Linked DNA regions of Homo sapiens. The protein of the gene in region 2 purifies or fractionates together with the protein of the main gene of each other region. This does not show direct contact. Each region holds a gene or a part of one and is shown on either strand. Other genes may lie near its edges.

Evidence for each region.
Region 1: the proteins of TFB1M (region 2) and MACROH2A2 purify together in Homo sapiens (co-immunoprecipitation; one large-scale study listed by IntAct). This does not show direct contact.
Region 3: the proteins of TFB1M (region 2) and ZSCAN5A purify together in Homo sapiens (co-immunoprecipitation; one large-scale study listed by IntAct). This does not show direct contact.
Region 4: the proteins of TFB1M (region 2) and ZNF346 purify together in Homo sapiens (co-immunoprecipitation; one large-scale study listed by IntAct). This does not show direct contact.

What each region holds. Positions count from the first base shown.
Region 1 is NC_000010.11:70,056,245-70,064,362, forward strand, and holds part of MACROH2A2 (core histone macro-H2A.2), read left to right. Parts: intron 1-8,118. UniProt on the Homo sapiens protein: Variant histone H2A which replaces conventional H2A in a subset of nucleosomes where it represses transcription. Nucleosomes wrap and compact DNA into chromatin, limiting DNA accessibility to the cellular machineries which require DNA as a template.
Region 2 is NC_000006.12:155,289,485-155,297,602, reverse strand, and holds part of TFB1M (dimethyladenosine transferase 1, mitochondrial), read left to right. Parts: intron 1-498; coding exon 499-650; intron 651-8,118. UniProt on the Homo sapiens protein: Mitochondrial methyltransferase which uses S-adenosyl methionine to dimethylate two highly conserved adjacent adenosine residues (A1583 and A1584) within the loop of helix 45 at the 3-prime end of 12S rRNA, thereby regulating the assembly or stability of the small subunit of the mitochondrial ribosome.
Region 3 is NC_000019.10:56,218,803-56,226,920, reverse strand, and holds the end of ZSCAN5A (zinc finger and SCAN domain-containing protein 5A), read left to right. Parts: intron 1-1,747; 5' UTR 1,748-1,874; coding exon 1,875-2,258; intron 2,259-3,086; coding exon 3,087-3,290; intron 3,291-4,179; coding exon 4,180-4,330; intron 4,331-4,594; coding exon 4,595-5,346; 3' UTR 5,347-5,618; downstream 5,619-8,118.
Region 4 is NC_000005.10:177,044,225-177,052,342, reverse strand, and holds part of ZNF346 (zinc finger protein 346), read right to left. Parts: intron 7,955-8,118; coding exon 7,810-7,954; intron 1,641-7,809; coding exon of another isoform or gene 1,593-1,640; coding exon 1,407-1,592; intron 1-1,406.

The DNA.
Region 1 (8,118 bases), on a different chromosome or scaffold from region 2:
TTTGTTTGTTTTGTTTTGTTTTGTTGAGATGGAGTATCTCTTGTCCAGGCTGGAGTGCATTGGCACAATCTCAGCTCACTGCAACCTCCATCTCCTAGGCTCAAGTGATCCTCCTGCCTCAGCCTCCCTAGTAGCTGGGACTACAAGCTTGTGCCTCCCAAAGTGCTGGGATTACAGGCGTGTGCCACCATGCCCGGCCAAGTTCTGTAATTTGAATTAATGTATGTCTTGCTTGGATAACTAAATACAAGTAATAATTTTAAAGTGATTGATAATACATAATGATAATACATAATTAATACATAACGATATACACAAAAAATTTACTACAGTAGTTTGTAAAGGGAGAAGAGAGTTTTGGACTTGAAGGGAGGGTGTTGGGCTAGGCTTCATAGAGAACGTGGCAGGATTTGGATGAAGAAGGGTAAGGGAGCGAGGCAGGTGGAAGGAAGCTGGATGCAGATGCTGTGTTCCAGCTAGTCCTCATTCTTCAACATGATTATGAGATTCCCTTGCAAGGCTGAGAGTCCTGGCCTGGCCTACCCTGCCAAGGTTCAGGTTGAAGGATGAACTAAAAGAACCCTCACAATTTTTTTCATTGCCATTTAAGTCTGTGACTACCTTAAATTCTATATATAGAAGAAAGAGAAAAACGAGCCAGTAGAGAAGTATATGAGTTCCAATATAGTATTGGAAGATCATGTTTTTAAAAGGAGTGTAGTGAAATCTTGAAGATAGAATTTTTTTCCCCAATATACACTGGGATGTATATTGGGAATTAGGTTGGAGGGAAAGATAAGTGTTTGGGAGGATAATTCATTTCCCCCAAAAAATCACAAAAGAGACCTTTTGAAACAAAATATTTAAGGCTGGTTTCATTTATTCAAACACTAGTTGAAGGAATATTTATTGAATATCAACTGTGACCTAACACTATGCTAGGTGGCATCTGGGGGTAAAACATGCAATAGCATTTTGGAAGAACAGCCCAGTTGCAGCAGTTGAGGTAAGGGGGCTGGTTCTAGTTTGGTCTCACAGGCCATGGACAAGTCATTCAATGAGCACGTTCCCTTCCAAGCCATTCCTTTCATTGTAGCTACATTTGGGTGGGGGTGGGGAGTGGGAGAATGCTAAATGATTGATCACTCAAGTCCCTTTCAGTCTTAGATTATGATTTTGTGAAATCCTGTGATTTCCAACATTGCAATGACTATGAATTCAGGCAGATGGAATTTGGAGACTACAGGATTAGACCGAGGGGATCTGAAAGTGCCCAGCCTTGGGAAAAACAAAACTATTTGCTGTCATGAGGGTTCTCAGCAGATGATGTGGCTCTCAGGGTTTTCCTAGAGTTAAACTTTCATTATTACCCCTTTACACACATACAACCTCAAGTACCGTACTAATTGTAGCGGTTGGTTTTGAAATAGAGTGGACAAAGAGGCAGAAATATGCCCAAGAAAATGTCAGACTGCATTTCATGAAAATAGTTCTCTATAATGATTTCTTTTGTGGAAATAAATCACAGTAGTTAATGTTTATTAAATGTCTGCTACCTGCCAGGTACTGTTCAAGCACCTTACATGTATTAACCCATTTAATTCTGACAGCAGCCCTATAAGTAGGTACTATTACTACACCCATCACAGGAAAACGAAATGGTGGGGGGATGGTGAAGAACATGCCCCAAAGTCACCACACAAGGGACTCCAGGCCAGGCAGCATGACCCCAAAGCCCTACATCCTTATGCCCACGTGGTAAGAGCAAGGAGCTGGTAGCTTTCCGATGATTCTCAGATGATACTCAGCTTAATGTTTGTGTAGGCAAATTTTTATTTTCAAAACTTATTTGTCTCACTACTTTATCCAACTATGACAAATGAAAGAATATGAGACTGAGCCACAGAACTCTGTACTTTAAGCTGTCTTGTCACAAAGTATTAAATAAGATAAATTTGGTGGTTTCTCTGAAGCCCTTACTGTTCATTTATCCATCTCACCATCCATCATACTTTGCCCGATTTATTTGACTGGCATTGCCAATTTGGACTTGGAATGGAGTAAGTAATTCAAGTCAAAATTCTCATGCTTTGATAGAAATGTGTGTGGAAATATGCATAGACCACCAGTGTACAGACATTTACTCCAACTGATTCTGAGATGTCAGAAGGGTTAGATACACTGACCACATTTATTCACTCAAAGTTACAACACATGATCTGGCCAAAGATTTAGGGGTTGTTTCTGGATATGAAAGGCGGTCCTGATGATAAGAGTTTAGATGCCCAAATTTGGGATATTTCTATGACAACAGGATAAAAGCAGCACAAGATAAAATCAAACCTACCCTGGAACCCAGGCCCCATGCTGGCTGGGCTGGCACTGCCAATTTTATATATATATATATATACACACACACAGAATTTTGTAACTTGTATTTTGCGCTCCTGCCTTCACTGCTCAATAAGACCATTAAAATTAAATAGTGGTGGTGGACCACAAAAAGGCAAACCCCAATAGCTTATACAATATGCAACATAAACTTTTAGGTCAGGTGGTAATTCACTGGGTTGCTCATCCCGAGTGGTAAACTTCCAAATTGAGCTTTCTTGCAGAATTTCAATGAAGTGATCATTGACTTAAGTCCCCCGTCCCCCCACCACCCCGCCAACAACCCTATCACGACTAAACTGAATTTTCACCTCAGCTGTTCCATAGTAAACAATGTAGATTATTGTTTTGGGGTGAAGAAAAGGCAGTCCTAGATATAAAATCAAGCAGATTTTTTCAGGTCCAGTTTTTCTTTTCTGTGGTTATCCTGGGTGAAGAAATAGCAACTTCAAAGGACAGATCCTGTGAATGTGACTTATTTATCCTGGTTGCTCTATCTCTGTGAATGTAAGTGACAGGTGGGGCTCAGAGGGAGTCTGTTTTGAGCATCTTATAGGTTGGAGAGGACCTCAGAGGTGAGCTGGTGCAATGGTTCTCAGGTGGGGCTCCACAGAACCCAGTGCTCCTTGGAGGCCCAAGGCAGGAAAGGTGGCGACCAAGCTGTTGAAGTTCCCAGGCACTTGCCCACTCCAGCCAGGACAGCTCCCCTTGCATCTGTTTTATATATTAGAGTATAATTTCTTTTTTTTTTTTTTGAGACAGAGTCTCACTCTGTCACCCAGGCTGGAGTGCAGTGGCGTGGTCTTGGCTCACTGCAACCTCTGCCTCCTAGGTTCATGATTTTCCTGCCTCAACCTCCTAAGTAGCTGGGATTACAGACGTGCGCCACCACACCTGGCTAATTTTTGTGTTTTTAGTAGAGACAGAGTTTCACCATGTTGGCCAGGCTGGTCTCGAACTCCTGACCTCAAGTGATCCTCCCGCCTCGGCCTCCCAAAGTGTTGGGATTACAGGCGTGAGCCACCGCGCCTGGCCTCCTACAAATTTTTGTTCAAGCAAAAGGGGAACCCTACGAGGTCTACTGATTTGCCTACAGGCCACAGCTAGTCACAGCCAAACTGGAGGCTCCCTCCCCGTGGTCCACCGCACCTTCCATTCTACCACCTTGATGCCCCCTTGAACTTTGGCAGGTTTCACCCACAGAGGGGATGGTGTGGTGTGGCCAGTGGCTGGTTACACCCACAGAGAGGATGGTGTGGTGTGGTGTGGCCAGTGGTAGCCCTTAGCTGAAGCAGCTGATACAATGTGCCGGGGCCCAGGAGCTACAGGGGACCCACACGTGCATAACCAGGGAGCAACACTGCCTGTCAAGAGCACAGAACATAGAACTGCAGCAAAAGACCCAAGCCACTTGTCCCCACAGTGCAGCCACTGCCTGAGGACTGACAGCAGGGCCAGGTGCGGTGGTTCACGACTATAATCCCAGCAGTTTGGGAGGCTGAGGTGGGCGGATCACTTGAGGTCAGGAGTTGGAGACCAGTCTGGCCCACATGCTGAAAACCCATCTCTACTAAAAACACAAAAATTAGGGGGGCACAGTGGTGGGCGCCTATAATTCCAGCTATTTGGGAGGCTGAGGCAGGAGAATCTCCTGAACCAGGGAGGCAGAAGTTGCAGTGAGCCAAGATTGCACCACTGCACTCCAGCCTGGGCGACAGAGCCAGACTCTCTTAAAAAAAAAAGAAAGAAAAAGAAAAAAGGACAGACAGCAAGAAAAAATGGGTAGGGAGGTGCAGGCAGAGAAAGGGATGGAGGAAGAGGGGTTCCAGAGCAGTCTGTTGTTCTAGCTTTGAGAGCAGACAACTGGCCCCACTGATGAACTCAGTTGCTCAGCAAACATGGATGTCTCTGGAAGCCCCTGGTGGATCAGGCACACCAAGGCATACAGTCCACCTGCTGTCTGGTACTGGAACACTCACCCTAGCCCCTAACGGTGCGCCTGCACACCTCTACTCCCATTTGGGAATCTCATCTTGGCTCAGACAAAGCCAGTGCCCTGCTCAGAGAAGTAAAGAATGTGCTGCTTATAACAATAAACTGCATTACTAATTTGGATCTGTTAGATTTGCAGAAAACAAGATAGTTTAACCACTGTTATACTTGATAAAGAACTTATTTAAATTAAAAGAAAATCTTGGTCAAGCTGGTCTCAGTGGCTCATGCCTGTAATCTCAGCACTTTGGGAGGCTAAGTTGGGAGGACTATTTGAACTTAGGATGTCAAGGCCGCAGTGAGCTGATTGGGCCACTGCACTCCAGCCTGGGTGACAGAGACTCTGTCTAAAAAAAAAAAAAAGAAAAAAGAAATATTGGTTTAAAGAAACCAGACTACTTTGTCTTTTTATGAAGGCCATCAGCATGTTAAATAAAGTTTATCCTTTCTCCCCAAAAGCAATTCATTCAATAAGGGCATGTGCTAAGGGGTTTTTCTTTCTTTCCTCTCCTCCCTTCTGAGATCCCAGTATAATTTTAAATATTGTTTATGGAAATCCCACTGCTCCTATTTGTCAAGCCTCAAAGAACAAAAAGACAAGAAGAGACCAGGCTGGACCCAGTGAGGGTGTTTTTGTTTTGTTTTCTGTGGATGAATAGATTCAGGAAGGCAAACTGGTTCATTTTCTGGTTGGCTTTCTTTAGGAATGCATTGCTAACTCAGATTCAAAGAAAACTAAAATTATTTTCATTCATTTCTCATCCAAGTACCACAGGTGGCCAAACGTATTTATATTAGAAAATAGCATAAGGCCAATAATAAAGAAACAAGCTACATTATAGATCAACAACTTCTGCATTTCTCTTTTTTAAAATAACCACAGCTCAGGTTCAACAGAGACAACAAAACATGTTAAAATGTCTTAGTATCCTGCAGTAGCAGCAGATATCCTAAATCTACCCCTTAAATGCCCCTACCCCTTGTCCCCAGCTCCTCTAGAGTGACCACACATGCTCTGCCTCTGAATGACAAAGAATGTGCCGGCAGTTGAACTTCCCACTACACGACGTGACTTGAAATACTTTTTTAAAAGGGAATGATTTGTTATCCAATAGTATAATTTAAATAAATTGGATTAATGCTTGGTTCTAACATTCATGGTTGGTTAATTTGGTTAATTTGATCTGCGTGCCATTTTGATGAAATTGCATTTGATATAGCCCTTTACGTTATAAATTGTTAATGTGCTGTAACATATATGACGATAAAATTATTGACTATTCTCATTCACTTAAAGGTGGCCTTGAAAGAAAATGGTTTGGAAAGTATTATACTATAATGATTTGCCCTTGGAGTTCATAAATGGAAGTGTAATAGAGCCAGTGATTTAGCTCTTATTACTGAAAATGATTTTTACAGCTACAAAATAATGCTAACAAACTATTATTATTTTAATACAGTACTTAGGGTAACACACCAAAATACAGTCAAACTCTATTAGGTGGGAAGCTAAGATTTTTTTCATACCCTTTAAAATATATTTCAATGTATAGTTAATATATTTATATTGAATCCCCTCATTTCCTACCTAGTTTTGTTTTATTTCATCTCAATGTATTCTCCCAAAGGATTATTCTGAACTGACAAAGATGCTTCATTGCAGTGTCTCCATCACTTTTCATAATATTTGCAATATAAAATATTCTGAAGCACAATACCACAGATTAGGGAAATATCATAGAGGATAAAAATGAATAAATTGAATAAATTTCAGCAATTTTAAAACAGTACATGAGTCCATTAGGGATGACACTGTGAATTTCATGTTCATGAAAACAATGTTTAAAGTTTTTTTTAAATTTCAATTCCATCATTAAAAGCTCTAAGATCTCTTATTTCTAGATTTAAAATAATGTATGATGAAAGCATTTTGATTTGCATACTTCTGAAGAGAATGATCTCGAAAGAGTGCTTTAAAAATAAGCCGTCTCGTGAGTCTAGATCCTTTGTCAAGGTGATTCATCGGTGTGACCGAACCCCACCTGTGACACCCTGGCCTATAATTATAGCTCCCAATCCTCAAATTACTGACTGCTGTCTCTTTTTCAAAGCCTCGTTGTAGAAGCTTGACTGTAGAAAAAAATGGTCATTTAAGTCAGGATGCTGTTGTATGTTCTCACCCATAAGTGGAAGCTAAACTGTAAGGGTACAAAGGCATCAGAATGACATAATAGACTTTGGGTACTCAGGGGAAAGGTGGGAAGAGGGTGAGGGATAAAAGACTACAAATCAGGTTCAGTACACCAAAATCTCACAAATCACCACTGAAGAACTTACTCATGTAACCAAATACCACCAATAAAAAATTTAACAAAAACTAAATAAATAAATAAATAAATCAGGATGCTGGAGCTGTCTAATGGCCCACCTTGCTGGCTGGCAGAGGGTTTGTTGCAGCCCTCCACAGTTTACAAAAAAAAAAATTAAAATGTGGAAAAGTTGAGGTGTAAAATGTGGCTCAACGTATATCAGCTCCTTATACTTGATAAAGAAATTATTTGAATAAAAAGAAAATATTGGTCTAAAGAAACCGGACTATTTTGTCTTTTGATGAAGGCCATCAGGGTGTTAAATAAAGTTTCCTGTTTCTCACCAAAAGCAACTCATTCAATAAGGGCACATGCTAAGGGGTTTCCTTTCTTTCCTCTCCTCCCATCTGGGATCACAGTATAATTTTAAATATTGTTTATGGGAACCTCATATGCTGCAATTGTGCAAATACAGACACACTGAGTTTGATTCTATTCTATTCAGGAGGCTTTATCGTCTCTTGATGCAAAATTTTATATTCTTCAATTATCTCAAGACCGGTTAGTTTTCAGTGACTCACCTGGTGATGAATGTGATCTTAATTTTTTAACACGACATTATTACTCAATTATAAAACAGTTGAGCTGTTTCTCCTCAGCAGCATACTCATTTCTAGGCTGATCCACAAATGACGTTTGTTAAAATGTTAAAGTCAAATGACATTTTCAGTTTCCAGTTCAAAATGATGGACTGAGCACATGTGCTTTCCTTCAAACCCCTCCTCTCCAGAGCCACAGAAATAATGGTAAAGAAGTACAAATAAAATAAACAATAACAAAGGGGTAGGGGCTGGTGTGGTTAGTCAACAGCAGACGGGAGATTGCAAGAAATTTCCAGAAGACTGAAAGTACATAAGAACATATGCACGTCACAGGGGAAGCCACAACTGAGAGTAAAAGCAAGAGGGAACTGCGGCGAAGGTGGGGAGCGTGATAAGTGGGGACTCATTGAAGGCCTGTTTCCAGGACAGCTCGGTGAATTATCCTTTCTCCCTCCTTTACTACTAGAAGAGTTTCCAGCAATTTGGTGTTTAGCCCTTAAGCTAACAATCTGAGAGTTCTTCTCTAAAGCAATCAAACAACTACAAGAGGCTGGGCATGGTGGCTTATGCCTGTAATCCCAGTATTTTGGGAGGCCGAGGCAGGCAGATCACCTGAAGTCAGGAGTTCGAGACCAGCCTGTCTAACATGGTGAAACCCTGTCTCTACTAAAAATACAAAAATTAGCCAGGTGTGGTGGAAGGCTCCTGTAATCCCAGCTACTCAGGAAGCTGAGGCAGGGAGAATTGTTTGAACCCGGGGGACAGAGGTTGCAATGAGCCAAGATTGCGCCACTGCACTCCAACCTGGGTGACAGAACAAGACT
Region 2 (8,118 bases):
CTTTGTACAGATTGTTGTTTCTGGGGTTTTTCTTTTTGGGCAAATTTGCCAGATTACTCCATTCCTATGGTTTCACTTACCACCTACGTATTGCAGACATTCACATCTTTATATGCTGCCTGTACCCCCTTCCTGGGCATCTGACCTCTGACAGCTTCATCTAGGTGTTCCATAGGCACTTTAACCTCATCATGTCCAAAATGAATTCTCTTTTTCCTCAAGCCAACTCTTTTTCCTGTATTTCCTAGGCCAGAAATTCAAGGACTTTTCTCTGAGTAACTGAGCAGTAATTAAGTATAATTTTTTCCTCAATAATCCAAAGCAGATTGTGAGAAAACATTGCTTTTGAATAATAAGTGAAAAAAAAAATTTAGCCATGTCTATTTATATATTTTTCTTTGATGCTATTAATATCCAGTCTGATTTTACTCGTCACTGAAATTGTATTCAGAATATATTGATGGAATCATTTCAGGTTGTTTTTTCCTCTGCCACCAGATCCTCCAAATGTACATATTATTGGAAATCTGCCTTTTAGTGTTTCAACTCCACTGATTATCAAGTGGCTTGAAAATATTTCCTGTAGAGATGGACCTTTTGTTTATGGCAGAACTCAGATGACTTTGACTTTTCAAAAGGAAGTGGCAGAGGTAAGTTTTAACATTTTGTGACTATTTTATCACATGTTCAAATTCCAAAGCAAAATAATAATACTGCATTTTTACCACAGTCTGTGTTTTCTAAGTTAATATCTTATTACACACACAAGAACCCAGCAGCAGCTCAGCCAAAAGTTAAAACTTTGATGATGATGACAGATGTAACTGCTGTGGGCTTCTGGGAAAACATGAATGATGTATGTTAGCCAAGGAGGTAGTGTGGTAAACACAGGGATGCAACAGCCATCGATGCCACTGGAGAAAGACAAAAGTGATGCCCTGTTGGCCATACCCAGGATTGGCACGTGATACCTTAAAATTGATCCTTTAGGCTTAATGGCATGGCAGTTAAAGAATATGATAATTGGCCGGGCATGGTGACTCATGCCTGTAATTCCAGCACTTTGGGAGGCCGAGGCAGGCGGATCACGAGGTCAGGAGTTTGAAACCAGCCTGGCCAACATGGTGAAACCCCGTCTCTACTAAAAATACAAAAAAAAAAAAAAAAAAAAAAAAATTAGCTGGGTGTGGTGGGGGGTGCCTGTAATCCCAGCTACTCAGGAGGCTGAGCCAGGAGAATTGCTTGAACCTGGGAGGCGGAGGTTGCAGTGAGCAAAGATCGTGCCACTGCACTCCAGCTTGGGTAACAGAGCAAGACTCTGTCTCGGCGGGGCATGCGGGAAGAATGTGATAATCAATTTGGAGCTGAGAAAGAGAAGGGGATTGAGGGTCTCATTATTCAGTATATAAATTGTACTTCCTCCCTCACCTCAGTGAAGTCTGCTATGCCTGCATTCCCATGGCAGAAGTGTTCTGGGTTCACTCTAGAAAGTAAACCCTCCAGGGTAAGCAGGGGTGGTGCTTGAGCTGCAAAGGTATAAGGACGGATGTGCAGACTCTTAAGTGGTTTTTTAAAAAAATTTTATTATGACATATAAGTACAAGAGTATACAGCCATCCCTTGGTATCCATAGGGGATTGATTCCAGAACCCCCACAAATACCAAAATCTACAAGTGCTCAAGTCCCTGATGTCAAACAGTGTAGTATTTGCATATAACCTGTGCATATCATCCCATATACTTTAAATCATCTCTACATTATTTGTAATACCTAAGACAGTATAAATGTTTTATAAATAGTTGTTACACTGTATTATTTGAGGAATAATGATAAGGGAAAAATCTGTACATGTTCAGTACAGATGCAACCATCCTTTTTTATTCCCTGAATATTTTTGATCTGGGATTGGTTGGATCCATGGATATGGAACCCACAGATACTGACGGATGACTGTATAATGTACATGGATGACTTAATAAAGGGCACTCCTGAATCCCCATGTACATGGATGACTTAATAAAGGGAACTCCTGAATCCCCACCCCCAACATGGGTAATTAAATCACTAGTACCTTTGAGACCCCATTGTATTCCTTACTCTGATTGCATCTCCTTTCCATCCCATGCTAGTAAGGTGATCACTACTGTGAATTTTGGATTTATTCCCTTGCATAGTCTTATCACACAGATTTATATTCCTATGATGAATACACTTTAGTTTTGTCCTTTTTTTTTTTTGGACAGAGTCTCACTCTGTCACCCAGGCTGGAGTGCAGTGGCACGATCTTGGCTCACTGCAAGCTCCGTCTCCCGGGTTCACGCCATTCTCCTGCCTCAGCCTCCCGAGTAGCTGGGACTACAGGCGCCCGCCACCACGCCCGGCTAATTTTTTGTATTTTTAGTAGAGACGGGGTTTCACCATGTTAGCCAGGATGGTCTCCATCTCCTGACCTCGTGATCCACCCGCCTCAGCCTCCCAAAGTGCTGGGATTACAGGCGTGAGCCACTGCGCCCAGCCCAGTTTTGTCCACTTTTGACAACTGGGTTTATATAATGTGTATTCATATAGTATGTATTGTTTTTATCCTGAACATTCTTTGTAGGATTCACTGACGTTGCTTATGACTGTAGTTTATTTAGGTAGCTATATATACTACCCACTATTTGACTGTGTAAGATCCTTATCTATTCATTCTCATGTTGGTGGACCATGAATTAGTTTCATCGTTCTGTTTTTACAAACAAAACTGTTGTAAACATCCCATACTGTGTCAGTTGGGGCACATGGGCAACATTTCTCTAGGGTATTTACCTGGGAGTGGAACTGCAAATCTTCACCACTGCATAGATAATGCTAAGTTGATCTCTGAAATCATCACGCCTGTTTATATTCCCACCAGCAGTGTGTATGAGTTCATTTTGCTCCATATTCTTGCCAGTACTCACTATTGCCAGACTTGTACATTTTTATTAATCTCAGGGTAATGGAATGTCATTGTGTTTTCTTTTGTCCTTGCTGGTTTGTAGCAAAATGGGGCACTATTGTGTGTTTACTGGCCTTTTTGAGTTCCTTGTTTTTAGTGCATGCTTTTTGCTCACCTTTCTTTTGGGTTGCTTATCTTTTTCCTACTGATCTGGAGGAGTTCTCACATACTCTTTAATACTCTTCATACTAGTCCTTAGTTAAATGTGTTGAGCATTTCTTCTACTCTATTGCATGTTGTTATTTTCTTTTTATGGTGTCTTTTGAAGAGCAAGCATTCTTAATTTTAAATTTATGTCTAGTGCTTTTTGTGTTTTGTTGAGGAAACACTTTTATCTTGAGTTCATGAAGATATTCTTCTGTTATCTTCTAGAAGCTTTATGTTTACCTTTCACATTTATATCTATAGTCCACTCGGGTTTGATCTCTGTGTATAGTGAAGTAGAAGCAATTTTACTATTTTTAACATATGGGTCCCAACTAACCTAGCTCCATTTACTCACAAGTCAGCCCTCGTTGATCCCTGTCAGCACCTCTGTCAGCATTGGTCTGGTTAGATACATCATATAAGCATTGGTCTGATTAGAAACATCAAGAAAAAAATGACATGAAATCCAGGAAGCAGAGGGCTCCCTACAGGACAGAGAGAAAGGAGTCCTCAGGAAGAACAACCAGTCCAGATTGGAGCCAATTAAAAGGGGAATTTGATAAAACTACTGTCAAGTTTGCATAGAGTCAAAAAAAAGTTGCAAAAACTCAGGAGAGTTTAAGATTGAATTCATGATAAATAAATAGAAAACTAAATATAACAGGGAGTGAATCAAGGGAAATATACCATTATTGGAATGAGAAGTACAAAAATATTATTTGGAGATAAATAATTATTTTGAAAACCTAAGAAAAAATGAGAGACATATATAAAAATAACTACAAAACCTAACTGAGAATCTCAAGGTCACTGAGATAAATCCAGAAAAATATCATAGCCCCAGAAGGAAAAATGATTATTTTAAAGAAGCTGATTTTTCCAAGAATTCTGTATATCTAATTATAATCCTCAAAGAACTTATCTTGAAATACGCAGTTCTAAGGATCATCTGGAGGAATAGACCTGCAACAATACATAAGAAATGTTGAAAAGGGAGAGTGATGAGAAAAGACTTCCTTGTCATATGCTAAAATGTATGGTGAAGCTTTAATAATTAAAGCAGTATGAGAAGCAGCACGTGACAGAGCAATTACTAGACTAGAAAGCCCGATGCAGACACCTTAGCAGTATCTGATAATGGTCAGATCAAAAATCAGCAGTGAAGGAAAGAATTAAGTAAATGCATGGATATTTGGTTAACTATTATGAAAAAAAATTATCTCTAAATTCCATTTGGGTCTTTGGATCTTCTCTTTCTGTCCTCATTACATTCATGCCTTCCTTGGCATTTTTCTATGTATGTATGTATGTATGATATTTAAAGTAGATGTTTTGGCCAGGCGTGCTGGCTCACACCTGTAATCTCAACACTTTGGGAGGCTAAGGTGGGAGGATTGCTTGAGCCCAGAGTTCGAGACCAGCCTGGGTAACATAGCTCCCTATGTTACCTTGTCTCTACAAAAAATAAATAAAAAATTAGCCAGGTCCGGTGCTGCATGCCTGTGGTCTCGACTACTCAGGAGGCTGAGGTGGGAGGATCACCTGAGCCCAGGAGATCAAATTACAGTGAGCCGTGATCATGTCACTGCACTCCAGCCTGGGCGGCAGAGCAAGACCCTGTCTCAAAAAATTGAACAAATAAGTAGCTGTTTTAAGATCCTTGCCTGCTAATTTCATTACCTCTATCATTTCTGTACTCTTTTAGTGATTGATTTCCCCTTCTTGCTATAGGTTGCATTTTTCTGTTTCTTTGAAAGCCTGATAATTTCTGACAAAACATCAGGTATTGTGAGAGTTTTATTTTTTTTAATGCTGATGAGGGCTGGATTTTGTGGTATTGGGTTGAGTGTTGGGTTTGTTGTGACACATAGATAAGATTGCTTGAGGCTTTTATTGTTCTGGTGGATCCAGGGTAGCTTTTAATTTGGGGCTCGTTGAGCCCCAGTACTACATCATGCCCTTTCTGAGGAAGGCACCCAACGCCCTGCATGTTACAAGGCCTCTTGAGCCATGTGAGCCCCAGTTGCTCCTGCCTTCCCCTGGTTCTAGTTCAGGCTCCCAAGCCTCAGGCACCTGCAGATCAGTGCTCAGCAGGGGACTTGGGGGACCCTTGGGACCCTTTTGCTACCTCAGGAGCTCTGCCTCACATTCTCTCTCCCTCTCCTGTTCCTGTCTCCCCCACCCGCTGCTCCTGCACACGTGTGAGCACCGCGTGTGTGCGTTTTCCATGTCTCTGGTAGTCTGCCCCACAAATTCTGCCTGCCGAGGCCTCCCAGATCTCCAGGTCTGGCTCCCTGAGCCCAGGAGACCTCTAGGCTCAGTTTGAGCTGCCCCCTGCCTCTGCTGCAGCCTGAGAAGGGCCTCCAGTCCTCTTCAGGCCGGGCATCTAAGGCTCATCTCCTTTCCATTTCAGTAATGACAGTCCTGCTCCACCTGTTGTCCTGTTTATGCAAACTCTTGTTTCCTATGACTTATTCAGCTTTATACTTGTTTCAGAACAAAACTTTTTAATGCCAGAATTTGTTTGAAATCAATAGACTCTACTACTACATAAGCTTAATTCTTTAAATGCCTTCCTCTCAGATAATTTGAGTGTATCATAAGAATTTCATTTCTTAGATCTATCCCTCTCTTTTTACCCTTGTTTCTGTTTAGGGGAATCATTTCCAACAAGGGCACTTTTGCCTTATCTGCTCCTCAGGGGCATTTGGCAATGTCTGACATGTTTTTGGTTGTCACACCAGGGAGGGGGCTCTGGTCTCTAGTGGATAGAAGGTTAGGGATGCTGGGAAGCATTCTTCAGTGCACAGCAGAGCCTCCCACAGCGAAGAACCACCCAACATTAATCAGCCCAAGATGTCAGTCATGCCAAGGTTGGAAAACTTTCCTTTAGATGATTTGGCCATAAAATCTTTCTCTCAGGAGTCTTGGAACTTCCCATCATAAAAACGTAGGACCGTTGCATGTTTGTTAGGAACCCTGAGATGATATCACCACTTTTCTTAAGGTCTTTGTCATTTCCTCTTCATGAACCTGCTAATTCTCTTGGGTTGGTTTGAATTGGGCCCATGCTGAGTTTTCTTTGTTGTTTTTCTCAACCTTTGGATATGTTGGTTCTGACAGAAACCATTCTTGTTTCCTCTGCACTTATACAACTTCTGACACCAGATGTGTGGGTTTTTTCCACACCAAGCAATCTCCAATTCTCCGAACACCAGCTGGGTATCCTGCAGTTTCATTCAATTCTGACACTGTCCACATGTTTTTAGTGTTAGATCCCACAAGTTAAGGGCCAAGTCCCACAAGACTGCGCCTCACTTCAGATGACAGTCACAAATCTGGGCCTCTAGGAGTTCTGAGCGACCAGCTATAAAATAAATCAGAGGGTTCCATGTCCCCCTCCTCAGATTGAATCATTTTTCAGAATGGCTCAAAAACTCAGGGAAACACCTTACCTACACTTGAGTAATGGGTAATCAATTGGTCTCAGTGACCAGCCCCATCTTGAGCTACCTAGAGGCCTCATCCTAAGTTATCTCATTACTGTAAACTCTGGGGGACTTGTGAATTTAAAGCAAGACATGCCGATTACTCAGGAAATTTCAAGGGCTTTAGGAGCCAGCGACAAAGTCCAAATATATTTCTTATTAAACCACATCTGTGGATTTATTTTTCTCAGCCGACATGATTATTTTGGTATTTCTGCTCTTGAATAACACAATAGAGATACAAAATACTATGTACTCTATTTGTGTGGGGGGAAACACAAAGAAACAGAGGCTTAAGAAGAGGTGGAGTAATATTTTCGGTGACTCAGCATGTCAGTTGTGGTTATTAATAATAGTGTTGCTTCGACTTCACCATATGCAATTCTTTTTCTTTAACAAAAAAAGTTGATTTTAGTTCAATTTTAGCATGAATATTGAGAAGAGTTTATATAGAGTCTATAATTTATGGAATGCCTTAGAAGTCTAGGTAACACTGGTCCTCTGATTTTCACATTTTGCAAGTGAAAGTTTCAGTGGGAGAATATATATATACTATATTAGTCCATTCTTTTCTTTTTTTTTTTTTTTTTTTTTTGAGGCCGAGTCTCGCCGCTCTGTCACCCAGGCTGGAGTGCAGTGGTGCCATCTCGGCTCGCTGCAAGCCCCGCCTCCCGGGTTCATGCCATTCAACTGCCTCAGCCTCCCAAGTAGCTGGGACTACAGGCGCCCACCACCACGCCTGGCTAATTTTTTGCATTTTTAGTAGAGACGGGGTTTCACCATGTTAGCCAGGATGGTCTCGATCTCCTGACCTCGTGATCCACACGCCTCAGCCTCCTAAAGTGCTGGGATTACAGGCGTGAGCCACCACGCCCAGCCCCTATGTTAGTCCATTCTATGCACTGCTATAAAGAGATACCTGAGACTGGGTAATTTATTTTAAAAAAAAGGTTTAATTGGCTCACATTTCTGCAACTCTACAGGAAGCATGGCTGGGGAAGCCTCAGGAAACTTATAATCATGGCAGAAGGCAAAGGGGAAGCAGGCATGGTTTATGTGGCTGGAGCAGTAGGAAGAGAGTGGGGAGGTGCTACACACTTTACAACAAGCAGTTCTCATGAGAACTCACTCACTGTCGTGCAAGAGGGAAATCTGCCCCCTTGATCCAATCACCTTTCACCAGGCCCCTCCTCCAACATTGGGGATTACAATTTGGCGAGATTTGGGCAGGGACAGTAATTCGCACCATTTCATATAGCAGCATTTTCTTATATGCCATTTACTCTTGACATGGCTGTATATGTAATTTTGTATTTTAGCCACAGGAAGCTCTTTTTAACATTTACTTTGATTGGCTTTGTTAATTACAAAACAGAAATAAATGAGCACCGTCGTCTTATTCCTGTCTCTAGCACTACAGGATCTAAGTGTAAGAATTCAGCTCATATGCATTAAGGGACATATAGACAATATGAAGTTACAGTTCATAAAATATAATC
Region 3 (8,118 bases), on a different chromosome or scaffold from region 2:
ACTTGTGTTTTAGATTCAGTGGGTACCTGTGCAGATTTGTTGCATGAGTATATTGAGTGATGCTGAGGTGTGAGGTATGACTCTACCCATCACCCAGGATATGAGGATAGTACCCAATAGGTAGTTTTTCAACCCTCCCTCCCTCTATCCCTCCAGAGTTTCACTGTTTTGGAGTCCACGTCCTGATTTCCTTTCCTCTGTGTACCTGCCCCGGAGCGGGATTGCCGGATCATGCAGTTGTTGGACTTTCAATTTTCTGAGGAGCTTCTATACTGTCTCCCATATCGGCTGCTCTAATTTACATCCCAGCACAGGGCGCAGAGGACCCCTTTCCCCCAAATCCTCACCAACACTCGTTCCATGTGTCTTTTTGGGAACAGCCACTCTAGCAGGCGTGAGGGGTGCCTTGTGGTTTGGATTTGCATGTCCCTGATGATGAGTGATAATGAGCACCTTTTCCTAGACCTGCTGGCCATTCACATGTCTTCATCTGAGATGTCCACACAGGCGCCTTAAGCCCTTCTAGTGGGTTATGTGTTTTCTCGCTCTGGAGGAGTTTGAGTTGCTTATGTTTTGCACAGGAGCCCCGTGAGATGTGTGGTGTGTAAATATTGTCTCCTCCTCTGGGTTGTCTCCCGCCTCTGCCGATTGTCTCCCTGGCTGTCTCTCTGTTCTGCACTTGCTCAAAGTCCTTCCAGGAAGTGTGGGGCACTCGCCCTCCAGGCTACCAGTGACTTTTCCCAAGACCCTTCTGCCAGTTTTTTCTCCCCTCTGCAGACCTTCAGGTTGCTTCCCCCACCTGTGTCTAGGAAAGCAGGGCTGTGTTCTCATAGCTGTTGAACTTGGACGATAATTGATGCCTGGAGAGTATCACTCAGTGGCTCCTGCCTAATGAAGCTAGGTTTAGGAATTAATTTTTAAAAATCTTATTATTGTATCAACCCACTTCTTTAAAATATCAAAGAGCACTAGACTTTAAATCCATTTTCTGAGATGAGATTAGGAATACAGAAACCCTTAGAGACAGAAGGTAGATTAGTGATTGCTAGGGGCTGGGGTGGGTGGGCAGGGGGTGATCACTGATGGGGATGGGGTTGCTTTTGGGTTGATGAGATAATTCTGGAAGTAAACAGTGGTAATGGTTGTACAACATGGTGCATGTCTTAGTCCCATAAAATCGTGAACTTGAAGAGAGTAAAAAATGATGAAATTTATGAATGTACATTTTACCAAAATAACAAAATATCTGTGTAGGTGCTTAATCCTCATAGGATCCTTTAATGCTGTCCCTTCCCTGGAGCAAGTAAATGTTCTGGAGTTAACAAGAATATGTGTTGGGGAAAATATTACATTCTAACTCTTTTTCTCTATCCTTTTGCATAATTATGACTAAGGGCTTTGCCTTGGATCTTGTCCTGATGGGGAAACATAAAGGGCTTACTTTATTGTTGCATCACATTTTCAGAGCTTCACCTAACTATCTTATTTAATTTATAGTCAAGAACAATGTTGTTCCAATTGACAGGAAAACTGATTCAGCCTCTGCACAGTGATTTCCTAGAGATCAGAATCCAGGGGTCATTAAGATTTTAAACCAGAGTATGTAGTCAGGTATAGACACTGGAAGATTTCCACTGTGCTGAATTCGATGCTGCTGAAGAAGTGGCATCCAGGATGAGGGATTTCGAAGGGAGGGATGGATGGAGTAGTAACTTAAACTAATGAGGCTCATACTTTTCCCCCCCAGACTTCTGAATGAACAGTGAATCTATTACTGAGGAAAACCAGAGGAAGCCTGTGTAGATAGGTATCAATTAGATACCAGCTACTGGAAGAGCTTTCTCAGAGACTGATTAAAAAATTCTCCACTAGATATGGCTGCAAATTGCACATCCTCATGGAGTCTAGGAGAATCCTGCAACAGACCTGGGTTGGAGCTGCCACGGTCTATGGCATCCTCAGAAACTCAACTTGGAAATCACGACGTGGACCCTGAGATTTCTCACGTGAACTTCAGGATGTTCAGCTGCCCGAAGGAGTCGGACCCCATCCAGGCTCTGAGGAAACTCACTGAGCTGTGCCATCTGTGGCTGAGGCCCGACCTCCACACCAAAGAGCAGATCCTGGACATGCTGGTGATGGAGCAGTTCATGATCTCCATGCCCCAGGAGCTCCAGGTCTTAGTCATGATGAACGGTGTGCAGAGCTGCAAAGACCTGGAGGACCTGCTACGAAATAACAGAAGACCCAAGAAATGGGTGAGTGGGACCCTCGTGATTGGTGCAGGGAAGGGGAGCTGGGATGGGGGCTGCACGGTGCAGCTGGACTCGAGAGGACCCGAGGGGCTGCTCTAGGTCAGGGCTTCCAAGTAGAGGAGAGTTTGCCCGTCGGGGACACATGGCAGTGTCTGGGGACAGTTTTTGTTGTCAGGGAGGACAGGAGACGCTGCTAAGCGTTCTCTAACGCTCAGGACAACCCATCATGACAAATAATCATCCAGATTCCAATATCAGCTGTGCTGAGACGGCAAGTTCCTGGTGTAGGAGATGGACAGGCAGAGGGGGTACAGGGACCCACACACTGTGTGAGGCCAACATGAAAGAAAGACATTGGTGAAATATTAGGCCTGATGGAATGTAGGGAAGGAGGCATTAGAGTGAACTGAAGGGGGGCCCAGGAGTCCCATCCTGAAGCAGGGAAAGTGGTTGGTATCAGATGCAGGGATCTGCCCCCAGGTCCCCAAATGAGCCCCTAAGTTCTAATACAAGGTGAGCTGCCATCGGCCAATTGAGTTGGATTCACCCAGAATATTTCTCCTTGTCTTCTCTTTGGTTTAGAGACTATTTCATCTAAAGGACCCATGTTTATGTACTTAACTAGAATATTCCAGGCGCAGGCAGGTGCTGGAGTCTAGAGAGGAAAAAATTCAGACAGGATTGCTGTGTCCACAGAGCTGACTCTCTATTGGGAAGGCAGATTTGAACATTAATTACAGTAAAGTGTGAGCATTATGGCAGGACCCAGGGAATATGAGAGCTACTTTCAGGTTCTCATGGTGAGTCTGATTGTCTTTTTTCTCTCTACAGTCTGTGGTCACCTTCCACGGAAAGGAATATATTGTGCAGGACTCAGATATCGAGATGGCTGAAGCCCCCTCCAGTGTCAGAGATGATCTGAAAGACGTGTCCAGCCAACGGGCCTCCTCGGTGAACCAGATGCGTCCAGGGGAAGGCCAGGCCCACCGAGAGCTGCAGATCCTGCCCAGGGTCCCTGCATTGTCCAGGAGGCAGGTGAGTGTGTGAGGCCTTGGTGTCTGGGCAGAGGTGGGAGAAGGAACAGGAGGAAATCGTGTGGCCGCTGGACTGATTGAGAGATTTGACACAGGACAAGATTAGAGCCATTCCCCATGGACATGATACATCCCCAAACATTCATTCCTGAGCCATCACAGAGAGGGAAGCCTCATCTACTTTTCTCTCCACCATGAGAGCTTTTAGCATTTAGGGTGGGGCATAAGAAATGATCTCAGTGAAATGAGGGAGGCAGTTTGCACAGATGAATGAAGATTCCTTCCCCGTAGCCAGTTTCCTCAAAGACATTTAATGTAATAATTCAGCAAGGAAACCATTTTCTACAGATTGTCAATTTCTTAATTTGAGGAGTGTTTCTCAACTGGGGTGATTCTGCCTTTCCGGACACATGGCCATGTCTGGAGATGCTTTTGTGTGTCATTGTAGGGGATGGTGGGGTGTTAATAGCATCTAGAGGGTGGAGGTGGGGTCTCTGCTCTGCACAGGAGCGCCCCCTCCAGCAGGGTGATGCAGCCCCAATGCCAGTGGTGCCACAGCTGAGGGGCCTCGACTAGAGTCATGCTCCTTCCAGTGTCAGGTGCAGGGAGACGTTGGCACGGCGGGGAGAAATATGCTCAGAGAACCAAACAGTGAAAACCACCAGGCACAGGAGCTGATTTGGAATATGGAGGGTGCAGATTAGGGACAGACACAGAAATGAGATGGTGATGTTTACGTGGGGTGATGGGGTGGTCCAGGGGAAGTCTGCACGTATTTCCACACCTGTGTCATTAGAAGAGTTGTTGCATCCAATCAGAAGGGGACAGATGTGTCCCTGCTTCCACCAGTTTGGACACAGCAGTCATTACTCTTGGTTTTTCCTCTTCAGGGAGAGGACTTTCTGCTACACAAGAGTATTGACGTAACAGGTGACCCAAAGTCTCTGAGACCCAAGCAGACCTTGGAGAAGGATCTGAAGGAAAACAGGGAAGAGAACCCAGGACTGACATCCCCAGAGCCTCAGCTTCCAAAGAGTCCCAGTGAGTATGAAGACTTGGATCCACAGGGGTTAGTCCCTCTCTTCTGGGGTGCGGGGCTGGGGGCCCAGCATTATCATCCCCTGGGGGAGTTGGCACTCAGCTGTCAAAGCCTCCCCATCCTCTACTTTCCAGAGACCTACAGTCCAATGTCTTAGGCTTGAGCTTGAGCGGAAGTTGTCAGCCAACATCAGTGTTTGGTTGCAATGAGTTTGGTGTATTGAAAATGCGCTTTATTAACTGTGTGTGTGGAATCCCTTCTTCCAGCAGATCTGGTGAGAGCAAAGGAGGGGAAGGACCCCCCAAAAATAGCCTCTGTGGAAAATGTGGATGCTGACACACCTTCTGCCTGCGTTGTGGAGAGAGAAGCTTCGACTCACAGCGGGAACAGAGGAGACGCTCTGAATCTGAGCAGTCCCAAAAGAAGCAAACCAGATGCCTCCTCCATTTCCCAAGAAGAGCCTCAAGGAGAAGCCACACCTGTGGGCAACAGAGAATCCCCGGGACAAGCTGGGATGAATTCAATTCATTCCCCAGGCCCTGCGAGCCCAGTCAGTCACCCGGATGGCCAAGAAGCCAAGGCACTGCCGCCCTTTGCATGTGACGTGTGCGAGAAGAGGTTTACGTGTAATTCCAAGCTAGTCATCCACAAGAGATCACACACAGGCGAGAGACTCTTTCAATGTAATCTCTGTGGGAAGCGCTTCATGCAGCTTATTAGCCTCCAATTTCACCAGCGAACCCACACTGGCGAGAGGCCCTACACGTGTGACGTCTGCCAGAAGCAGTTCACCCAGAAGTCCTACTTGAAGTGTCACAAGAGAAGCCACACAGGGGAGAAGCCCTTCGAATGTAAAGACTGCAAGAAAGTTTTCACCTACAGGGGGAGCCTGAAGGAGCACCAGCGCATCCACTCCGGAGAGAAACCCTACAAATGTTCCAAGTGTCCAAGAGCCTTCAGTCGGCTGAAATTGTTAAGACGCCACCAGAAAACACATCCAGAAGCTACTTCTCAGTGATTGCATAATCCGGTCTATGCCTTCTGCACCAAGAAGAAGTGAATGATATTTTTCATCAATGTTATCAGATGACATTTGACACATGCAAGGGCGTCTGACACACAGAGGGAGTGCCCTAGATATGAATTGCCAGGATGTTTGAGTAAATATGTGTCCTCCCCACTGAGCTTTGTTTTCTGTTTCATTATGTCCATTGTTTTCTTATAGGTTTATTTTGGTTTGTGTTGCTGTTCTTCCAATAAACGATCATCTTATTAGTTTTCAATATTGTATAACGGAAAACTGAGTTTCCTGATTGACATGGGGTTACCCACTGTTTTGCTGTAAAGTACAGTTGTCCAAGGAGGGTGGCCATATAAAATACATAATGCCTGATGAAATTTGAGTTTCAGATAAACAATTTTCTTTAGTATCAGCATGTTCTAAATTATTTATTTATCTGAAACTCAGCTTTTATTGGGTATCCTGTAGAGTTTTCGTTTTCTTTTTTCTTTCTTTCTTTTTTTTTTTTTTTGAGATGGCGTCTCCCTCTGTCACGCAGGCTGAGGTTCAGTGGCATAATCACCGCTCACTGCAGCCGCGACCTTCCAGGCTCAAGCAATCCTCCCATCTAAGCCTCCCGAGCAGCCGAGACTACAGGAGCACGCCACCAACTTGGCTAATTTTTGTGGTTTTTGTAGAGATGGAATTTTGATATGTTGCCCAGGCTGGTCTTGAACTCCGAAGTACAAGTGATCCAACTGCCTCGGCCTCCTTAAGTGCTGGCATTACAGGCATGAGCCGCTGTGCCCTGTATTGTTTTTATTAGACTTTATTATAATTATGATATTCAAATTTTTGAAATAATTTTTTGTAGTGATGGGATTTCTTGTTGCCCAGGCTGGTGTGGGGTGAGCCACCACGCCTGGCTCTAGACTTTCTTTTTCAGAGCTGTTTAGGTTCACAGGGAAATTCAGTGGACAGCACAGAGTTCCCCTAGACTCCCTCCTCACACAACACAGCCTCTCCCTGCCCAGCATCCCCAGCAGAGTGGTGCACCTGTTCCATCAGTGAGGCTGCCTGGACATATCACCACCACCCAGAGTCCATAGTGTTCATTAGGGCTCGCTCTGGGTGTTGTACGTGCTGTGGGTTTGGACAAAGGCCTCATGAGTACACACCACTGGAGTATCCTGGGGGGTATTTTCACTGCCCCCGGAATCCTCTCTGCTCTGCATATTTATCTCCCTGCCCCAGATGGTGTATTTTGTGGCCTAAATTTGGCAACCTCTAAATTCCCGATTTGACTCTTGAACTACAGAGGCATTGGGAGTCTCTGGTGACTAGTTGGTCTTAGTGATACTACCATCCCCTGAAGGCGTGGTTAATCCTCAGGTGGGTGGGCCCCAGACTCAGCTTCTGATTGAGCAGACCGGGCATGGGGCCTGAGAGTGTGCATTAAAATATATAATTCATTTTAGAATAGCTTTCTAAAGTCCATGGAGCTCCCTAATGCCCCACATGGCTTCCCCCATTGCCAACATGGTTCATTAGGATGGCACCTTTGAACTGACTGGAGCGATGAACTGACTGGATATATTGCCGTGATCTAAGGCCCATACCTTATTGAGGCCTCCTTAGTGTTTACACAATGCCCTCCTCTTCCTTCCTCCCCATCCAAGACACCACATTGCCTTGAGTTGTCACGTCTCCCTAGGATCCTCTTGGTGACAATTTCTCAGATTTTACTTGTTTGGGATTACCTGAGAATGTACATTTTAGGTGGTGCTCATGCTGCTGGTCTTGGGAGGACATTTTATGGATGGCTGATTGAGCTGACGGGCAGAGTCCTGCAATCTGCAGAGGTCTGGAAAGGTCCCTTCCCAAATAGGCTGGATTCATTTATTAAAGACTACTTTTGTAAGACTTTGGTTCTTGTCATCTTAATTTAAAGGAATTTAATCAAGAGACCCACAGCAGAGAGATGCATCATAGAATAATTGATTACAGAGGAAATACAATATCTTGAAAGTTAAGGGCAGAATAGACAGGACATCCTGGGAGCAAGGATTCAGGGCCAGCTGCTCCCAAGGATGAGACAGCAAAGACCTGCTTGAGGGAGACTCCCCTTTATGGGAGTCTTGGATGATTACACCTAGGGGGGTGGGAAGAGGTGTTACTACTAAGCATATTCTGGGTGCTCTTCTGGGCACACAGGTGCAGTAGCTGTGCACATGTCTCATTAGCGTCTTAACTGCCCGCCCAGGTGTGTGTTTTTTACTATCATAACAAGAAATGTGTCGGTTTGTGGATGGGTAAGATCAACGTGCACATTCTCTCTACAGTGGAAATACTACAGTGGAAATACCCTACTGGAGATGGCCTTGCTTGAATGAACTCAATTCCAATGTGAACGCTGAGGCTTACTGTGTTGACTGTACAGTCACCACGCGTGCAGCATCCTGAGGACGTGGTCATTTCCTTGACTGCCTATCCTGCCTCACCCAGGTCCGTTTCGGAGTAGCATTCTTTGAGGCAGGGACCTGGAATCCACCATAAAATGTACATAGACTCCCCTTTCATTCAAGAAGTGGAGGTAGGGGTGGGTGGTGGTTCTCCCTTTTGGTGATTGGGTCCAACCTTCTTCACAGACGTAGAAAATGTGTTGATAATACCACCTGCCCGTTTAATTTCAATCATGGTGCTCTATGATCCATTAATGACATCCAATGTTTCTTTAGAGCTTCATTTTCTAATTTGGCTACATGTTGGAGTCACTTGAGGAGTTTTTAA
Region 4 (8,118 bases), on a different chromosome or scaffold from region 2:
GCCGGAAATTAGCCATGTGGGGTGGCACATAACTGTAATCCCAGCTACTCAGGAGGCTGAGGCATAAGAATCGCTTGAACACAGGAGGCAGACGTTGCAGTGAGGTGAGATGGTGTCATTGTACTCCAGCCTGGGAGACAGAGTGAGACTGTCTCAAAAAAAAAAAAAAATTGTTTTTTTGATACATGTTCTCGCTCTCACTCAGGTTGGAATACAGTGGCACAATCATATCTCACTTTAGCCTTGACCTCCTGGGCTCAAGTTATCCTCCCACCTCAGCCTTCCCAAGGTGCTGGGACTACAGACATGCGCCACATGCCCAGCTAATATTTAAAATTTTTAGTAGAGATGGGATCTCACCATGTTGGCCAGGCTGGTCTTGAACTCTTAGGCTCAAGTGATCCTCCTACCTTGGCATCCCAAAGTGTTTGGATTACAGCATAAGCCACTATGCCTGGCTGGGCTTAAAAATTTTTTAATTTAGTTACACATTTAAAAATCAGAGGGGCCGGGTGCAGTGGCTCACGCCTGTAATCTCAGCACTTTGGGAGGCCGAGGCGGACGGATCACGAGGTCAGGAAATCGAGACCATCCTGCCCAACATGGTGAAACCTTGTCTCTACTAAAAATACAAAAATTAGCCGGGCGTGGTGGTGTGTGCCTGTAGCCCCAGCTACTCGGGAGGCTGAGGCAGGAAAATCGCTTGAACCCAGGAGGTGGAGGCTGCAGTGAGCTGAGATTGCGCCGCTGCACTCCAGCCTGGGTGACAGAGGGAGACTCCATCTCAAAAAACACAAACGCAAAAACAAAAACAGAGGGATTTCTATATAAATCTGGCTTTCCAGAGTCTTTTGAAAACCTGAAAGAGGGCTGGGCGCGGTGGCTCACGCCTGTAATTCTAGCACTTTGGGAGGCCGAGGTGGGCGGATCACAAGGTCAGGAGATCGAGACCATCCTGGCTAACATGGTGAAACCCCGTCTCTACTAAAAATACAAAAAAATTAGCTGGGCATGGTGTCAGGCACCTGTAGTCCCAGCTACTCAGGAGGCTGAGGCAGAAGGATGGCATGAACCTGGGAGGTGGAGCTTGCAGTAAGCCGAGATCGCGCCACTGCACTCCAGCCTGGGTGACAGAGCAAGACTCTGTCTCAAAAAAAAAAAAAAAAAAAAAAGAAAAGAAAACCTGAAAGATATGGTAACAGCTGAGTAGGAATGGCATTCACTCTTCAGCTGACCATATCCCCTTCCTGGCTCTCATTTTAATTTCTCATCTGGCTTCTGTAGCCATCTGAGTTCGCAAACCCTACTTACAAGACCTAAGGAGGAAAAGCACAACGTCAGCTGGTCCGGGTAGCCCCAGTGGCCAAACCCTGGTCCAGCTCTGGGTGTGAGCTAGGCCCCCTCACCTGGAAAGTCAGTGACAGCAGGGTCCGCCAGCCGCCCATAGCGTGCCATTAGTTTGAGCTTGGTCTCCTGTTTTCTGTGTTTCTTGCCCACATAATGTTGTTGAGCCATGACAGGGTCGTTGAAAGTTGCATGGCAGAGGCTGCAGAACTTGTCTGGGTCTATCATCTCTCTATTCTGGTGCAAGGCTAAGGTGGAGGCCACAAGGAAAGGATTTGTAAGGCGTTTTGACAGAGCTGCAGTGAGAGAGTTCAAACAGAAACAATGAAAAAACCCAGAAGGTGTCAGGCTTTTGAGTATGCTGAATAGAAAGGGCTGTGACACCAGTTAATCCTACTGCAGATGTGGCACTGCCTGTGTGAGTCACACAGGTGAATGCATTCTCTAATTGGGAAACCTGGGAAGATTTGAGGGAGCCCAAAGACTGGCTATTTCATTCAGCGGCTTTAACTACTTTAAGCCCACAAATCCTGGTGGTTCTCATATTCTTAGGAGGCCCTGAGCTTCTCCTGTCAGGCTGCCAAGTTACAATAGACTAGAGATGCACACTTGCACTCTTGCAGGGATACCTCAGTACTTCCCAGAACTTCACAGCAAGTGGGACACGAAGTTTGGGAGTTTTATTCTCATCCTTAAAGTAATACAGTTGCAGAGCTGGGAACAAATGCACAGATACAGAAATTGAGGCTTGAGTTCCTGGAGCTCATACAAGGTCATTCAGAAAAGGTAACCATACTAGGGATGCCTTTTAGGCTACATTGCATATTATAGGCTGAGTAGAGAGAAAAGAGGACCATTAACATTTAGTTATGCGTTTTGCTCACATCTGTAATCCTAGCACTTCAGGAGGCCAAGGCAGGCGGATCACGAGGTCAAGAGATTGAGGCCATCCTGGCCAACATGGTGAAACCCTGTCTCTCCTAAAAATTCAAAAATTAGCTGGGCATGGTGGCGTGTGCCTGTAATCCCAGCTACTTGGGAGGCTGAGGTAGGAGAATCACTTCAACCCAGGAGGCGGAGGTTGCAGCGAGCCGAGATTGCGCCACTGCACTCCAGCCTGGGCGACAAGAGCGAAACTCCACCTCAAAAAAAAAAAAATTAGTGATGTGTTTTCTACATATATTTTCTCCTTTGGTCCTCAGAACTACCCCAATGAGGTAGGTATCACTTTGCCACATTATTCAGAAAAACTGAGGCTCAGATGAGTGAAGTGGCTTGCCCAAGGTGACCCAGCCAGTGAGTGAAGCCAGGTCTGTGACCCTAAAGCCTGTGCTCTCTTTGCTATGCCAGGCTGCCAGTGTGGCAAGAAGACCTGAAGGCTATAGCTCTTACTTACGCCTTCAGAAAACATCCCTGATTCTGGCCAATGAATTCAGTGAATCAGAGCCTGGTATAGGCATACATGCGAGCCTCTTGTGCATCAACATATGGCTTGATGTTGACTCTAGGCTGCGCTGCTGCCTCATAAAGCGGATGCCACGACTCACTAACAAGTCCATGTGGCTGAAATGGTGTCAACCTAGCAACTACTGCTTTAAAAATGTGGGGCCCAGAAGCCCCCACCAGTGGTGGAGGACTGATGGGGCTCAGCAGGACTCACAGATGATATGTCTCAGATGCTCTTCCATACCTGTATCACTTCAACTGGGGAAGTTTTGAGGATTTTGGGCAAGCCAGAAGAAATTTGCTGGCCTTTCCCACAATGGTTTTTCTAGTATAGGGAATTTCAGTTTCTCTGCTTGTTGATTTTGTTTCAGCAAGTCATCAAAAAAGTAATGTACATGTTGTAGAATATTTTATAATATGAGAAAATATTCTGTTTGTGGTGTTGAGTGTAAAAAAAGCAAGTTACAGGCCAGGCGCAATGGCTTGTGCCTGTAATCCCAGCACTTTGGGAGGTTGAGGCAGGCAGATAATCTGACTCAGGAGTTCTGAGACCAGCCTGGCCAACATGGTGAAACTCAGTCTCTACTAAAAAAATACAAAATTAGCTGGGTGTGGTAGTGCATGCCTGTAATCCCAGCTACTCAGGAGGCTGAGGCAGGAGAACTGCTTGAACAGGTGGGCGGAGGCTGCAGTAAGCTGAGATTGCGCCATTGCACTCCACTCTGAGCGAAAAGAGTGAAATTCTGTCTCAAAAAAAAAAAAAAAGAAAAAAAAAGAAAAAAACAAGTTACACATCAATCTGCTTCTTATGTCCTCAATTTTATAGAACAACAACAAACGCATAGGTGACAGCATGGAAAAAAGATCAAAAGCACAGAGAGTAGAGTGTGTTTCACTATTTTCCGACTTTTCCTTTCTTTTTTTTCTTTTTGAGATGGAGTTTTGCTCTTGTTGCCCAGGCTGGAGTGCAATGGCACGATCTTGACTCACTGCAACCTCTGCCTCTGGGGTTCAAGCGATTCTCCTGCTTCAGTCTCCGAAGTAGATGGGATTACAGGCATACGCCACCATGCCCAGCTAATTTTGTATTTTTAGTAGAGATGGGGTTTCTCCATGTTGGTCAGGCTGGTCTCAAACTCCTGACCTCAGGTGATCCACCCGCCTCAGCCTCCCAAAGTGCTGGAATTACAGGCGTGAGCACCCGGCCTACTATTTTCCAACTTTTCTGTAATGAATGTAGATTTTTAACATCAGAAAAGAGGTATAATGGTTGTTAAGAGAGAACGGTCATTCTTTGAGATACTGAACAGAAGCATCAGAAGTGAAAGTGTAAGTAAGTCTAGAACCATTTAATGCGCATCCAATAAAATGAGGGATATAGAGTCTGTTCTCAGAAAATAACCTGAAATGTAATAAAGTGTTCTACAGAGATGTTCACTGTAGTGTTATCTGTAACACCAAAAAGTGGGGGGTGGGGAGATTAAATGTTCAGCATTAGACGAATATTAAATGTAGTACGATGCAGTCACTAAAAATGCTTATAAAGAATTTTTTAATAACATGGGGAAATACAAATGTCATATTAAATAAAAAACATATAGAAGGCAATTGTATGGCCAGGTGCGGTGGCTCATGTCTGTAATCCTAGCACTTTGGGAGGCAGAAGCGGGTGAATCACCTGAGATCAGGAGTTAGAGATCTGCCTGGCCAACATGCCGAAACCCCATCGCTAGTAATACAAAAATTAGGCAGGGCACGGTGGCTCATGTCTGTAATCCCAGAACTTTGGGAGGCTGAGGTGGGTGGATCACCTGAGGTCAGGAATTCAAGACCAGCCTGAGCAATATGTTGAAACCCTGTCTCTATTAAAAATGCAAAAATTAACTGGGCGTGGTGGCAGGTGCCGGTAGTCCCAGCTACTCAGGAGGCTGAGTCAAGAGAATTGCTTGAACCCAGAGGGTGGAGGTTGCAGTGAGTCAAGGTTGCACCACTGCACTCCAGTCTAGGCGACAGCAAAACTCCATCTCAAAAAAACAAAAAAACAACATTAGCCGGGTATGGTGGTGGGCACCTGTAATCCCAGCTATTCAGCAGGTGGAAGCAGGAGAATTGCTTGAACCTGGTGGGGCAGAGGTTGCAGTGAGCTGAGATTGCGCCATTTCACTCCAGCTTGGGCAAAAGAGGGAGACTCCATCTCAAAAAAAAAAAAAAACAAAAAACAAACAAACAAAAAAGGCAATTGTACATACCATACGGTAAGATCATTGTTTGAGGCCAGGAGTTCAAGACCAGCCTGGGCAACATAGTGAAACCCCGTCTCTAATAAAAACACAAAAATTGGCCAGGCGCGGTGGCACGCGCCTGTAGTCCCAGCTACTTGGGAGGCTGAGGCAGAAGAATCGCTTGAACCCAGGAGGCGGAGGTTGCAGTGAGCCGAGATCGTGCCACTGCACTCCAGCCTGGGTGACAGAGCAAGACTTCATCTCAAAATAAATAAATAAATAAATAAATAAATAAATAAAAATAAATAAAAAAATTTTAAAAACCCCACACGTGTAATCCATATGTGCATACTGGTATTTTAAAACATCACCAACATATTAACAGTATTTCTCTCTTGGTGTAGGATTTAGGTGATATTTTACTTTCTTCTTTGTATCTTTTGCAATTGTTTGAAGTGGAATTATTCATAATGAGTATGCATTGTTTTTATAAAAACATGAAAGTTATTTAAAGTAGTCTATGTTTATATGCACATATACACGGAGTTAACCTAGATATACACAAAACGAATATACACACAGATATACAAAGATACATATAACAATAAGATTATAGGAGAAACAGATTATAGGAGAAACCAAAATGTTAACAGTGTTTATCTGTGAATGGTAAAATTATGGGTAACTTTTCTTTCCATTTATCCATGTTTTCCTTATCTCTTACAACATGATTATATTACTTTACATTAAAAAGTGTTTAATTTCAGAAATATAGTTATAAAGTTGTGTAATAACATGGAAATGTGCTTAAGCTGTAAAATTAAATGAAAAGTAAAAGCGGGATATAAAGGGTACCTGCATTATGATCACAACTATATAAAAACAAAGTATGTGGCAAAAGCTGAAAGTGAATATGGAAAATAATCTCGAGTATGAAATTTCAGGGACAAGGCATAATGCAGAGAATTTTCCCATTTGTGGGAAGAGAAGTCTGTGACCTTATAAAATTGGTTTTTTTTTTTTTTTTTTTGAGACGAGGTCTTGCTCTGTCCCCCAGGCTGGTGTACAATGGTGCGATCTCAGCTCACTGCAACCTCCAGCTCCCGGGTTCAAGCGATTCTCTTGCCTCAGTCTCCCAAGAAGCTGGGACTACAGGCTCGTGCCACCACACCCAGCTAATTTTTGTTATTTTTAGTAGAGATTGGGTTTCACCGTGTTGACCAGGCTGGTCTTGAACTCCTGACTTCAAGTGATCTGCCCACCTCAGCCTCCCAAAGTGCTGGGATTACAACAGGCATGAGCCACCATGCCCGGCCTATGTCCTGTGTTTTTAATACACATTATTGTATCCTCACAACCGATGAAGTAGACAGTATTATTATCATTTTATAGGTTAGGCAGTTCAGACACAAAAAAGTCATATAAACAGTAACAGTGCCAGGCTTTAAACCTGGGACTCTGTGACTTCAAAGTCCACATTCTGCTGTTTCATACCATGAATAACTAGATGTGGGTGTGATAAAAAGGTGTAATTATGAGTGGCCAGGTGTGGTGGCTCATGCCTGTAATCCCAGCACTCTGGGAAGCTGAGATGGGAGTATCACTTAAGGCCAGGAGTTCAAGACCAGCCTGAGCAATATAGTGAGAAGCCATCTCTATTTAAAAAAAAAGGTTTTGGCCGGCGTGGTGGCTTATGCCTGTATTCCTAACACTTTGGGAGGCCGAGGCAGGTGGATCACGAGGTCAGGAGTTTGAGACCATCCTGGCTAACACAGTGAAACCCCGTTTCTACTAAAAAATACAAAAAAATTAGCTGGGCATGGTGGTGGGCACCTGTAGTCCCAGCTACTTGGGAGGCTGAGGCTGAAGAATGGCATGAACCTGGGAGGTAGAGCTTGCAGTGAGCCGAGATCATGCCACTGCACTCTAACCTAGGCAACAGAGCGAGACTCCATCTCAAAAAAAAAAAATTATGAGTGATTTTTCACCCTACCTTTGAAGGCTTCCAAAACACAGTTGTCAGTAAACACAAAAAGGATAATAGTATTACTAATAGTGTAGTCTACTTCTTGGTCCAAAATAGAGAAGCAAAAATTATCAAGAAAACAATGAAATAAACATCAAAGAACTTTCACTCTTGACTAATTGCAATTAGCAGAGGTTAAAACCCCAGAAAGTCAGGAGTTAATGAGATGAAAGTGAGGGCTGAGCCCTAGTCGTGACGAGATAAAGGGGGCTATTTCAGAAGTCACTGTACTGGGAATGAATTCATGGCAGTTACAGATTGTGGGGCAGTAGTAGCAGCACTGAAGTATTCAGCTTTGAAAGGCAAGTCCCTGTCTTGAGGAGAACAGGCAGCTTTTGAGGATTAAAGTGAGTAGGCCATAACCTGAGCATGTGAAAAAGACAAGGATTTAGCTTTCAACTTGGAACATGCAGTAATAAGGGCAGGTGGATGCTGGGATGGAAAAATCTAGTGGGAGAGGTAGGAGATAGAATGCTCTCATGGTATGCGTGGCCTGGAGGACTTTGGCACTCCTGAGTTATAATTATTAGTCAGGACAAAAGCTCAGCCTATAGAGAAAAACCTATAACCAAAGAAAGGGAGGTTAGGTGAGCATAATTCTGAGATTGCATTTCAGTGAAGCTGGGTCTACTTGGAGATTTTTAAGGGTTCTCAAAAGCAATTCAACTTCTTCAAGTCTGTGGCCTCAGTGAGGATCTCTGTGAGCCCCTGGCAGTAGTGCCCTGAGGACGGCAGGGGTCCCACTATAGCACTACTCAGGAAAACCAGTACCTTCCACCTTAGTGGACTGCTGCTTCAGCTTTAAGTTCTTTGCGTGGGTCTTCCCCAGGTAGTGCGACTGGGCCACGACAGGGGAGGAAAAGGTCATGTTACAGATGGGGCAGCACTGGTTCTTGTCTTTGCTTCTGCTGCTCTTCTGGTTGGAAGAAAGAACACAGGTCTGATCATACCACTGCCCCACCAGAAAATCTTCAATGGTTCCCCACTGCCCATAACAGAACAGGCATTTATGGCCCCCCTCACACATTAACCCCAACCTACTTTCTAGATTCTTCTCCAGCTACTTTGTCCCAGACTCTA